3 linked regions of the Homo sapiens genome follow. The protein of the gene in region 1 purifies or fractionates together with the protein of each later gene. This does not show direct contact. Each region holds a gene or a part of one and is shown on either strand. Other genes may lie near its edges. The genes, in order: IDH2, SCARB1 and ACO2.

Region 1 (3,647 bases):
ATAGCGAAACTTCGTCTCAGAAAAAAAAAAAATTAAAAATAGCTGGGTGTGGTGGCATGCGCCTGTAGTCCCAGCTACTTGGGAGGCTGAGGTCAGAGGATCACTTGAAGCCAGGAAGTCAATGCTGCAGTAAGCTATGATGGCATCAGTGCATTCCAGCCTGACCAATGGAACAGGACCCTGCCAAGAAAGAGAGAGAGAAAGGGAGGAAGGAACGAAAGGAAGGAAGGAAGGAAAGAAAGGAAAGGAAGGAAAGAAAGGAAAGGAAGTAAGTAAGGATGGATGGATCCAGGTGCTCTAAACCAGCAGTTCCCAAAGTTTTTGGCACCAGGGGCCAGTTTCATGGAAGACAATTTTTCCACGGGTGGCAGGGTGGTGGGCAGCGGGGATGGTTTTGGGATGAGTCAAGTGCATTACATTTATTGTGCACTTTATTTCTATTATTATTACATTGTAATATATAATGAAAAAATTATATAGCTCACCATAATGTACAATCGGGGGGTCCTGAGCTTGCTTTCCTGCAACTAGACAGTCCCATCTGGAGGTGCTGGAAGACAGTGACAGATCATCAGGCATTAGATTCTCATAAGGAGTATGCAACCTAGATCCCTCGTGTGCGCAGTTCCCAGGCATGAGCTCAGGTGGTAGTAGTGCTCACTCACCTGCAGCTCTCCTCCTGCTGTGTGGCCCAGTTCCCAACAGTCCGTGGACCTGCACTAAAGGCTGTGGCCTGGTCTGCTGACCTCTCTCCAGAGCCCACGGTACTAGTCCATGGCCTGGGAGTTGGGGACCCCTGCTCTAAGCAGTGAGGGAGCTGATTTGCAGACGGGGGAGTGGACACCGGGCAGCTGGAGCCCTGGCTTTCTGCCACTGTCTCCTGGTGAAGGGCGGGCCTGGCTGGGAGGAGAGGGCCCCCCTCCAGCCTCCCCAGGGGCATGATGCGCTGTGTGTCCCTGCTTCTAGATGCCGACAAAAGGATCAAGGTGGCGAAGCCCGTGGTGGAGATGGATGGTGATGAGATGACCCGTATTATCTGGCAGTTCATCAAGGAGAAGGTAGTGCCCCCTCCTGAAGTGGGTGGCTCTCCAGGTGGGCTGGCCAGGGATTGTTCTGTCCCACAGGGTCTTCTGGACTGCAGGTCCCTAGGACCCCCCCGTTGTCCTGGTAGGCAGCAGCAGCTCTGTTTCTCTCCCTCTGTCTACCCTTCTTTCACATCTGGTCCACTAATTGTTCAGAAGTCGTCAGGCGGGGGCCTGTCCCCAGCAGTCCGTGTTGTGATGGTGCCAGATCCCACACGTTCTGTCAACTTTGAGAAGCTTCAAGGTTAATCCTGTATCATTTCCATCTTGATCCCCTACGTTTTGCCTCACTTCTTGAAAAGGAGTGAAAAGGGAACAGGGCTGGTGTGTAGGGCAGTGACCCAGCCTGCAGTTGTGACGAGCCACCATGGCAAAGGGGTCCCAGAGTGGCCGCTTGGCTTCTCCAAAGTTGCCGTGGTCTATGTATGTCCAGGAGAGCATGTAGTCCTTGTGAAGGCCCCACACTGTGTGTGCGTTCATGGGACAAAGGTTGAGAACTGTCACTTCCAACTGTAAGATCTCAAAGCACTTGAGAAGAGGAAACCAGTTGTATAGAGAAATCTAGATGTACTTGGGGTTGGGGTTTGGCTGAGTTGATGGGCCATGTGAGGGGGGCACACAGGCACAGTGGAGGAAGAACCCTCCAAAAGACTGCGGCCTGGCCTGCCAACCTCTCTCCAAAGCCCCAGCCTCTGCCAGCTCTGGCCAGGCCCCACTGAGAAATGGCTGACTCCAGCTTTCTGCTGCGCCCCTCCACTGGCCTTCACTCATCCCTGTTTTGACTGACTGTCCCCTGCCATGGCCTGCAGACTTCTTATCCTGCCCTTTGTTGTCATGTCCCTGAGTCACTGGGGTGACGCCTTGCTCTGGCCCTCTGTCCCCAGCTCATCCTGCCCCACGTGGACATCCAGCTAAAGTATTTTGACCTCGGGCTCCCAAACCGTGACCAGACTGATGACCAGGTCACCATTGACTCTGCACTGGCCACCCAGAAGTACAGTGTGGCTGTCAAGTGTGCCACCATCACCCCTGATGAGGCCCGTGTGGAAGGTGCGAGGGTGTGGAGGTGGGCGGGCCAGGGAGGGTCACAGGCTTCTCCCACCGGCCTCTCCAGACTTGGGGTGGGGCAGTTGGCCATGTCACTCATCTCGGGACTGGGAGGTTGGGAGGCTCCAGAGCTGGGGCTTTCCTGAGGCCAACTGCACCTGAGGCCAGTCTCCCTGTGTGTGCCTGGTGGACAGTGGGGCCTCAGAGGTCACCTTTGATGAGGCTGGGGCAGGCGTGGGTAAGGGGCTGGCCTCAGGTTCCACGGTTAGGGCACAGCAGAGCTGAGAACAGAATCCATGTCTTCCATCTCCCAGGCCAGTGGTGTTTCTGCTTCACTCTGGCTCTGACAGTGGTAGGTGTCATCGGTGACAGGGCTGAGGAGGAGGAGGAGGAGGAAGGTAATGCTGATGTGGTCACAGTAAGGATGGCTTCTTTGGGCAGTAGTCCATTCTGGCGTGGACAGTCTTGCAGGCAGGTATGCAGAGAGATTGTGCAGAGGAGTGCTGTGTGTAAGGCCTGTGTCCTTCAGAGCCTCAGCAGCCTCTGGGGAACATTGCTGTTGCCCTCCTGCCACTGGCTTGGCCTTGCAGGTCTGCCTCTGTCCCCATGGTCATGCAGGGTCACTGAGAGGTGCCCCCACCAGGCCTAGACTGGCTTCTGGTCCTTGGCTGTTGGGGCCGCTCTCGAGGGTTCCATGAAGTCACAGCAGTGTGTGTGCAGAGGGGCCAGGTTTGGATAATTCGAGAAAGGATGGTTGAGGAGTTTTCTGAGCTCTCTCTTCCTACTTTCCACAGTTGGAGGGAGCTGGCGGAAAGTACTCGAGATACATCTGCAAATTCCCCAGGCCTGCCCCTGTCCTGCAGGTCATGCCTGACCCACAGCACTGGGATCATTTGAGTGTTGAGCTCTTCATTTCACCTGAACCTTGGGAGTTGTGTATCCCCATTTATGGACAAGGCAGGAGAGGGTCACAGCCTTAGGAACTGGGGTGGCGTTGGGGCCAGGACCGGAGCATGTGGAGTGGGCAGTGTGTTGTCAGGCTTCGTCAGACAAGTCCTTCCCCCGGACTGTACTCCCTCCATGTGTGATGTGGGAATCATAATGGCCAACAGAGCACTTAGCATGGACCGGGCACCGTTCTAGGCCCTTTACACACGAGCTCATTTCGTCCTCACGACAACACTTAGGCTGGTTATTTTTCCAGTAATTTTTTTTTACAGCTTTGGTTGAGCCACTTTTGTAAGCCTCACCATTAAAACTGGCAGACTTGCTGGGCATGGTGGCTCACACCTGTAATCCCAGCACTTTGGGAAGCCGAGGCGGGTGGATCACCTGAGGTTGGGAGGTCGAGACCAGCCTGACCAACATGGAGAAACCCCATCTCTCCTAAAAATACAAAATTAGCTTGGTGTGGTGTCACATGCCTGTAATTCCAGCTGCTCGGGAGGCTGAGGCAGGAGAACCGCTTGAACCCAGGAGGCAGAGGTTGTGGTGAGCCGAGATCGCGCCATTGCACTC
Region 2 (3,647 bases), on another chromosome or scaffold:
AAACAGATATTTTTATATAAATAAGAAAAAGACAGCCCCTCTGGGCAGATGAGGCCTGCTGTAGGGCAGGGGGCTTGGTAAACTGTGTGTCCACTGGTCTGTAACCCTTCAGCTGGGTCCTTTTGTGCAGTGAACAGCCTGGACAACTGTCCAGGTGGCCCTTCAGGGATATGTTCCTGGACCTTTCTTAGCTTCTCACCGATCTTTCTTCCACGCCAAGTCCATGTTCCTCAGTCAAACAAGTGGCAAAGAGGAGGAGGAGGAGGGGAAGGAGGAGGAACCTGCTTCACCCTCTGGCACCTGCGGGTTTTGTTCCACGTGTCTTCCTTGGGAAAGACAAGGGGTTCTTTTACAGCCTAGGGGTGGTTTCCCCTTTCTACTTCTGAGTGAGACCTTCTCAAGTCACGGCTCTTTGGGCCCACATGGCTAAGGTCTAGCCACCTGTGGGTGTCCTGTGCTGCCTCAGTGGGTGGTGTGGGGGCGGGGCTGACCTCCCCCGCGCCTGGCTCAGTGCAGCAGACCCTGGCCCCTGTGCCCGCTCTCTGCCCTGAGCAGGAGTTTGATTTTCCTACCCCGTGGTGAAGCAAGCACAGGTGGGCGGAGGTGGGCAGCGGTTTCCAGCCCCAGCCACCGGGGCAGGGAGGCCTCTGTTGCTCAGGGCAAGGGAGGCAGGGGGCTTAGTGGGACGAAGGCTCACCCCACACTCTTATCATTAGCATTATCTGTATTTTTAATTTTTAAGTTGAGAAATTTTCTACAACTGTCAAACTAGACAAATGACAGTATCCAGTTCCCCTCACCCAGACGCAGCCATTGCTGACAGCTGTCAGTGTTGAAGATGGCCAGCATCTCATGCCCTTGGTTTCACTCGTTCCCTGGGTGGCCCTCGTCCCCCTCCCCACGTCCTGCGCCCCGCATACCCTGAGCAGCCATGGCCAGGAACTTGGCACGTGGGTTTGTTTTTTCTGAATCTGCATGTGCGCAGCCATGAGCATGAGGTCACTTTTTGAATGTGACCGAAGCTGCATCCTGCTGCGTGTATTGCTGTGTGGCTGGCTTTCCTCCCTGTCTTCTGTTCAGGAATACTGTTCAGGCTGAATACCGTCCTGTGACATGGGTTTAAAAACACAGGCCAGGCATGGTGTCTCACGCCTGGAATCCCAGCGCTTTGGGAGGCTGAGGTGAGAGGATCGCCTGAGCCCAGGAGTTCGAGACCAGCCTGGGCAACATAGACCTGATCTCTACAAAAAATTAAAAAATGAGCCGGGCGTGGTGGTGGCACGTGTCATTGTCCCGGCCACTTGGGAGGCCGAGGTGGGAGGATCACTTGAGCCCAGGAGTTCAAGGCCGTGGTGAGCCATGATGGCACCACCGTACTCCAGCCTGGGCGACAGAGAGAGACCGTCTCTAAAAAATAAAAAATAAATCAACACATAAACATACGTTCTCCTCCTGAGGGACAGAGCTTGCCCCGGTTGTTCCATGTTGACTGTGCTGCACACAGGCCGCCCCCCTTGCTCTGCCCCTCACTGTATTAAGTCTCTTTGGGCCTCAGTTTCTCCATCTCTAAAGGAGGTCGGGGAGGCCAGGCGGGTGTTGAGTGAGATGAAGAGGCCCTTGGAGTCATTCCAGGAGTCTATAGGTGACTCCAGTCTCTTCTCACTTCTGACAGCCTGGTGGCGGGGGTGGAGTCTCTGCTGGGGATGTGGGTACAGGGCTGTGGTGGGCGGGGATGAGGGTGGGGTTTGGTGACAGGGCGTGGGTGGTCACCCAGCTTTGCCTTTCTCCACAGGGTCCTGAGGACACCGTGAGCCAGCCAGGCCTGGCCGCTGGGCCTGACCGGCCCCCCAGCCCCTACACCCCGCTTCTCCCGGACTCTCCCAGCGGACAGCCCCCCAGCCCCACAGCCTGAGCCTCCCAGCTGCCATGTGCCTGTTGCACACCTGCACACACGCCCTGGCACACATACACACATGCGTGCAGGCTTGTGCAGACACTCAGGGATGGAGCTGCTGCTGAAGGGACTTGTAGGGAGAGGCTCGTCAACAAGCACTGTTCTGGAACCTTCTCTCCACGTGGCCCACAGGCCTGACCACAGGGGCTGTGGGTCCTGCGTCCCCTTCCTCGGGTGAGCCTGGCCTGTCCCGTTCAGCCGTTGGGCCCAGGCTTCCTCCCCTCCAAGGTGAAACACTGCAGTCCCGGTGTGGTGGCTCCCCATGCAGGACGGGCCAGGCTGGGAGTGCCGCCTTCCTGTGCCAAATTCAGTGGGGACTCAGTGCCCAGGCCCTGGCCACGAGCTTTGGCCTTGGTCTACCTGCCAGGCCAGGCAAAGCGCCTTTACACAGGCCTCGGAAAACAATGGAGTGAGCACAAGATGCCCTGTGCAGCTGCCCGAGGGTCTCCGCCCACCCCGGCCGGACTTTGATCCCCCCGAAGTCTTCACAGGCACTGCATCGGGTTGTCTGGCGCCCTTTTCCTCCAGCCTAAACTGACATCATCCTATGGACTGAGCCGGCCACTCTCTGGCCGAAGTGGCCGCAGGCTGTGCCCCCGAGCTGCCCCCACCCCCTCACAGGGTCCCTCAGATTATAGGTGCCCAGGCTGAGGTGAAGAGGCCTGGGGGCCCTGCCTTCCGGGCGCTCCTGGACCCTGGGGCAAACCTGTGACCCTTTTCTACTGGAATAGAAATGAGTTTTATCATCTTTGAAAAATAATTCACTCTTGAAGTAATAAACGTTTAAAAAAATGGGATGCCTGCCTCTGTGACAGCCTTGTTTGCTGAGGTCGTGGGGGTGGGGGCCTCTGGGAAGTTCCGGGCTCCTCTTCTCTTGGTCAATAGCTCCTTTCTGGTGGCTGCCAAGAGCGTCTCTCCCAGGGCCGGGCTGCTGGCTTACCTTCCTGTTGTTTTCAAATTTCAACCTTGTGCAATGTTGAGTTTCATAGAAATACTGCATGAGTACGCCCTTGTTTAGAAGCAGCAGGGTCTGAGTCCCATCCCACAGCCCCCAGTGCAGACGCTTTTGCCACTTTTGCATGGGGCCCCCTGGATGTGTTTCTGTGCATTTATCTACAAATCCTGGTGCCCATAGGACATGCCCCGTGTTGTTCTAGGCCTTTGCTTTCTGCTCGTTACATAAATGGTGAAGAAGAGAAGCGGGTAAGAGAACAGATTGGAGCCATCTAAAAGTTCTCATCTTAAGTGTAGATCATTGCAAAGGATGGAATTTTCTCCGATTGTCATCATCGTTGATGTTTGAATATGAGACCATTTCATCAGTATTTAAGTGTGCCCGCTGGGATCTAACTAGGAGAGGAGAGGGTATTCACTGCCGAACATTTCAAAGAATATACGAACAAGCTCTTTTATGGTCAGAAATGTTAGCCCTTTTCCCCTTAAACTTGTATTTCCTTTCTTCTTCCCTCCTAAAATTTTATCTAAATGATATTTATATTTGATGCTTTTAAGCCTTTTATTAATCACTCCTATACTTGCCTGCAACATAAATATATAAGTTGAAGCAAACTTTTTTTTTTTATTTCTTGTGACCATCAAGGGTAAATTTTTTTAGGTCTGGGGCTGCCATAACAAAATACCATCAAGGCCGGGCGTGGTGGCACACGCCTGTAATCCCAGCCCTGTGGGAGGC
Region 3 (3,647 bases), on another chromosome or scaffold:
AAGGGCTATATAATTGCTAAATAAATTTGTGGCAGGGTGCAGTGTCTCACGCCTGTAATCCCAGCACTTTGGGAGGCCAAGGCAGGTGGATCACAAGGTCAGGAGTTCGAGACCAGCCTGGCCAATATGGTGAAACCCCATCTCTACTAAAAACACAAAAATTAGCTGGGTGTGGTGGCAGGCGCCTGTAGTCCCAGCTACTCGGGAGGCTGAGGCAGAAGAATCCCTTGAACCCAGGAGGCGGAAGTTGCAGTAAGCCGAGATCGCGCCACTGCACTACAGCCTGGGTGACAGAGTGAGACTCCGTCTCAAAAAAAAAAAAAAAAAATTGCCTGGGGCTTTATCAGTAGTTGTTAGTAGGTATGGTTTGAATCTGGACATGTCTGATTCCGAAGCCTGAGGGCTTAGCAACTGGCACTATGCTGCTTCCCTTTGGCATCGAGCTCAGCCTGTGGATCAGGGCACCATAACCTCAGAACAGTGCCAAGTTGAATGTGTACTCTCGTTTGACAGTACCTGCTACCAGGTAGTAAGATTAGAAATAAGAAAATAGAACGTGGGTTTTGTTTTATTTTGTTTTGTTTTTTTAAAGAAATGGGGGTCTCGCTATGTTGCCCAGGCTAGTCTCAAATTCCTGGGCTCAAGCAATCCTGGCTTGGCTTCCCAAAGTGCTGAGATTACAAGCGTGAGCCACTGCAACCAGCTAAGGAGGTGAGATTTTTGAAAAACCACATTTATTCTCTGGTTTTTAGCATTTATTTTTGTGCATATGACTGAGTAGTACACAAGAGGGGCTGAGCAGTTGCAAGTATGTTTATTAGGTGTTTGGTTTTGCCTTGAGATAACTGGGGTGCTGAGGTTTCATGTGACCTTGGGGGAAGTCATGTAACCTCTTGCATATAAATTTGTGATGGCAGTTAACTACAAAAATATTTGGCAGAAACTCTGTGCCATGTTAAAATAAAATCTTGGTTTGAATTGTGAAACAGATGATTCTGGTTGTATGGTCACTGTGATAACCTTCGCAGATATCAGTTGTTATTAGAATTGAGTGAATGAATTGGTAAATAAGCTTCCATCTTAGATGTGGACAGAGGGAACAGACACACCATCCTGAGGATTAAGGGAGCACAGCATTACCTTTCAAACCAACTGCTTCACAGTGTTCTTTGAAAGCTTTGGCTGGGCTCGGTGGCTCACGCCTGTAATTCCAGCACATTGGGAGGCCAAGGCAGATGCATCACCTGAGATCAGAAATTCAAGACCAGCCTGGCCAACATGGTGAAACCCAATAGCTAATAAAAACACAAAATAAGCCGGGTGTGGTGGCACATGCCTGTAATCCCAGCCACTCGGGAGGCTGAGGCAGGAGAATCACTTGAACCCAGGAGGTGGAGGTTGCAGTGAACCGAGATCACGCCATTACACTCCAGCCTGGGCAACAAGAGTGAAACTCTGTCTCAAGAAAAAGAAAGAAAAAGCTTAATGTCTAGCACTGCCTAGCATTGTTCTAGACACTGGGGGTGCAGTAGTGAACAAGAATAGTGGGGCTTAAATTGTTGTCCTGGGGAAATTACGTAGAAAAATAAGAATATTGTATTACTGAGTGTTGTGGGGAAGATAAGGTAGAGAGAATAGGGGTGGGAACATGGCATTTTTAACTGGGGTGTTTGGGGAAGACCTCGTAGAAGAGGTGACATCTGAACTGGGACTTAAATGATACGAACGCAGCTGTTTACCATTTTTGGAGGAGACTTCAAATAGAAGGAGCATGTGCAGAGCACCCACCTAGGTATGAGCTGAGTGTGTTGAGGATAAGAGCTAAGGCCAGTGTTGCTACAGTGTCCTGAGGAGCGAAAGGTCTGAACAAGAGGCTGGGGCTAGGGTCAGGCAGGCTTCGGTAAGGAAATCCAAGTGTAGTGAAAACTGGGAGATTTTAAGCCAGGGAGTGATGTGATCTGATCATCTGGGCTGCTGCGTGCATGATGGACCATAGAGGGTCAAAAGGAGGAGGCAGGGAGACCAGTGGGGGACTGTTGGAGTCATCCCAGGAATGGCAGAGGAGTCTGGGACTAGGGATCTGGGGGGTGGAGATAATGAGATGTATTCAAAATTGGGATATATTTGGAGGCAGATGGGTTGGCGCATGGGAGGGATAGAGAATAAGGGTGACTCCTGGGTTTGGGGTCTTAGTAACTGAGGGATGGGTGAGCTTGATTGAATTCAGTGGTCGTGTGTTTGCAGTCATTTTTTTTTTTTTTTTTTTTTTGAGACAGGGTCTCGCTCTGTCACCCAGGCTGGGGTGCAGTGGCGCGATCTCGGCTCACTGCAAGCTCTGCTTCCTGGGTTCATGCCATTCTCCTGCCTCAGCCTCCCGAGTTGCTGGGACTACAGGCGCCTGCCACCACGTCTGGCTAATTTTTTGTGTGTTTTTAGTAGAGACGGGTTTCACGTGTTAGCCAGGATGGTCTCAATCTCCTGACCTCATGATCCGCCCGCCTCTGCCTCCCAAAGTGCTGGGATTACAGGCGTGAGCCACTGCGCCTAGCCTTTTTTTTTTTTTTTTTTTTTTTTGAGACGGAGTCTCACTCTGTCACCCAGGCTGGAGTGCAGTGGCGCGATCTTGGCTCACTGCAAGCTCCGCCTCCCAGGTTCACGCCATTCTCCTGCCTCAGCCTCCTGAGTAGCTGGAACTACAGGCGCCCGCTACCATGCCTGGCTAATTTTTTTTTGTATTTTTAGTAGAGACAGGGTTTCACTATTAGCCGGGATGGTCTCGATCTCCTGACCTCATGATCTGCCTGCCTCGGCCTCCCAAAGTGCTGGGATTACAGGCGTGAGCCACTGCACCCGGCCTGCACAGTACTTATAAAAATTAGCTAAGGGCAGAATCTCATTGATAAATTTTTGATTCTTTCATCAGTTCTCAAGTACTTTATTTCACAGGTGAGAAAGCCAGATGACGTCAAGTGTCTTACCCAGGGGCCCTCACTTGAGTCGAGTATGAGCATATTGTCTCATGTGGACTCTGTCCTATCTGGTCTTATTGTGAAACCTGGTGTGTGTCCAAGAGGGCCATCTTGTAAATGCTTACCTTTTTTATAAAAAAAAAAAAATTGTTTTTTCCTTTTTTTTTTTTTTTTTTTTTGAGATAGGGCCTCATTCTGTCAGCCAGGCTGGAGTGCAGTGGTGTAATTATAGCTCACTGCAGCCTTGACCTCCTGGGCTCAAGCAGTCCTCCCACCCCAGCCTCCCTAGTAGCTGGGACTAGAGGCATGTGGCACCATGCCCAACTAATTTTTTATTTTTTGTGGAGATGGGGATCTTGCCATGTCACCCAAGCTGGTCTTGAACTCCTGAGCTCCCAAAGTGCTGGGATTATAGGCGCGAGCCACTGTGCCTGGCTAGTGGGAAGAGAGTGTTGAGTCTTCCTTGGCTCCAGCTTTCTTTGACTTGCCTCGTTTTCCCAGCACCTGGTTTGGAAGGCAGTGGTGGGCTCTGGGCCTCTCAGCATGAAGGAAGGAAGGTATTGTAGAGAGACTTCTTGTAGCCTTTAAAAAGCAGCAAATGGGCCGGACGTGGTGGCTCACGCCTGTAATCCCAGCACTTTGGGAGGCTGAGGTGGGTGGATCACAAGCTCAGGAGTT

The links.
Region 2: the proteins of IDH2 (region 1) and SCARB1 fractionate together in Homo sapiens (co-fractionation; one large-scale study listed by BioGRID). This does not show direct contact.
Region 3: the proteins of IDH2 (region 1) and ACO2 purify together in Homo sapiens (affinity purification with mass spectrometry, with the first as the bait; one large-scale study listed by BioGRID). This does not show direct contact.

What each region holds. Positions count from the first base shown.
Region 1 is NC_000015.10:90,088,964-90,092,610, reverse strand, and holds part of IDH2 (isocitrate dehydrogenase [NADP], mitochondrial isoform 1 precursor), read left to right. Parts: intron 1-966; coding exon 967-1,058; intron 1,059-1,966; coding exon 1,967-2,132; intron 2,133-3,647. UniProt on the Homo sapiens protein: Plays a role in intermediary metabolism and energy production. It may tightly associate or interact with the pyruvate dehydrogenase complex.
Region 2 is NC_000012.12:124,776,732-124,780,378, reverse strand, and holds the end of SCARB1 (scavenger receptor class B member 1), read left to right. Parts: intron 1-1,792; coding exon of another isoform or gene 1,793-1,912; 3' UTR 1,913-3,523; downstream 3,524-3,647. UniProt on the Homo sapiens protein: Receptor for different ligands such as phospholipids, cholesterol ester, lipoproteins, phosphatidylserine and apoptotic cells. Receptor for HDL, mediating selective uptake of cholesteryl ether and HDL-dependent cholesterol efflux.
Region 3 is NC_000022.11:41,472,043-41,475,689, forward strand, and holds part of ACO2 (aconitate hydratase, mitochondrial precursor), read left to right. Parts: intron 1-3,647. UniProt on the Homo sapiens protein: Catalyzes the isomerization of citrate to isocitrate via cis-aconitate.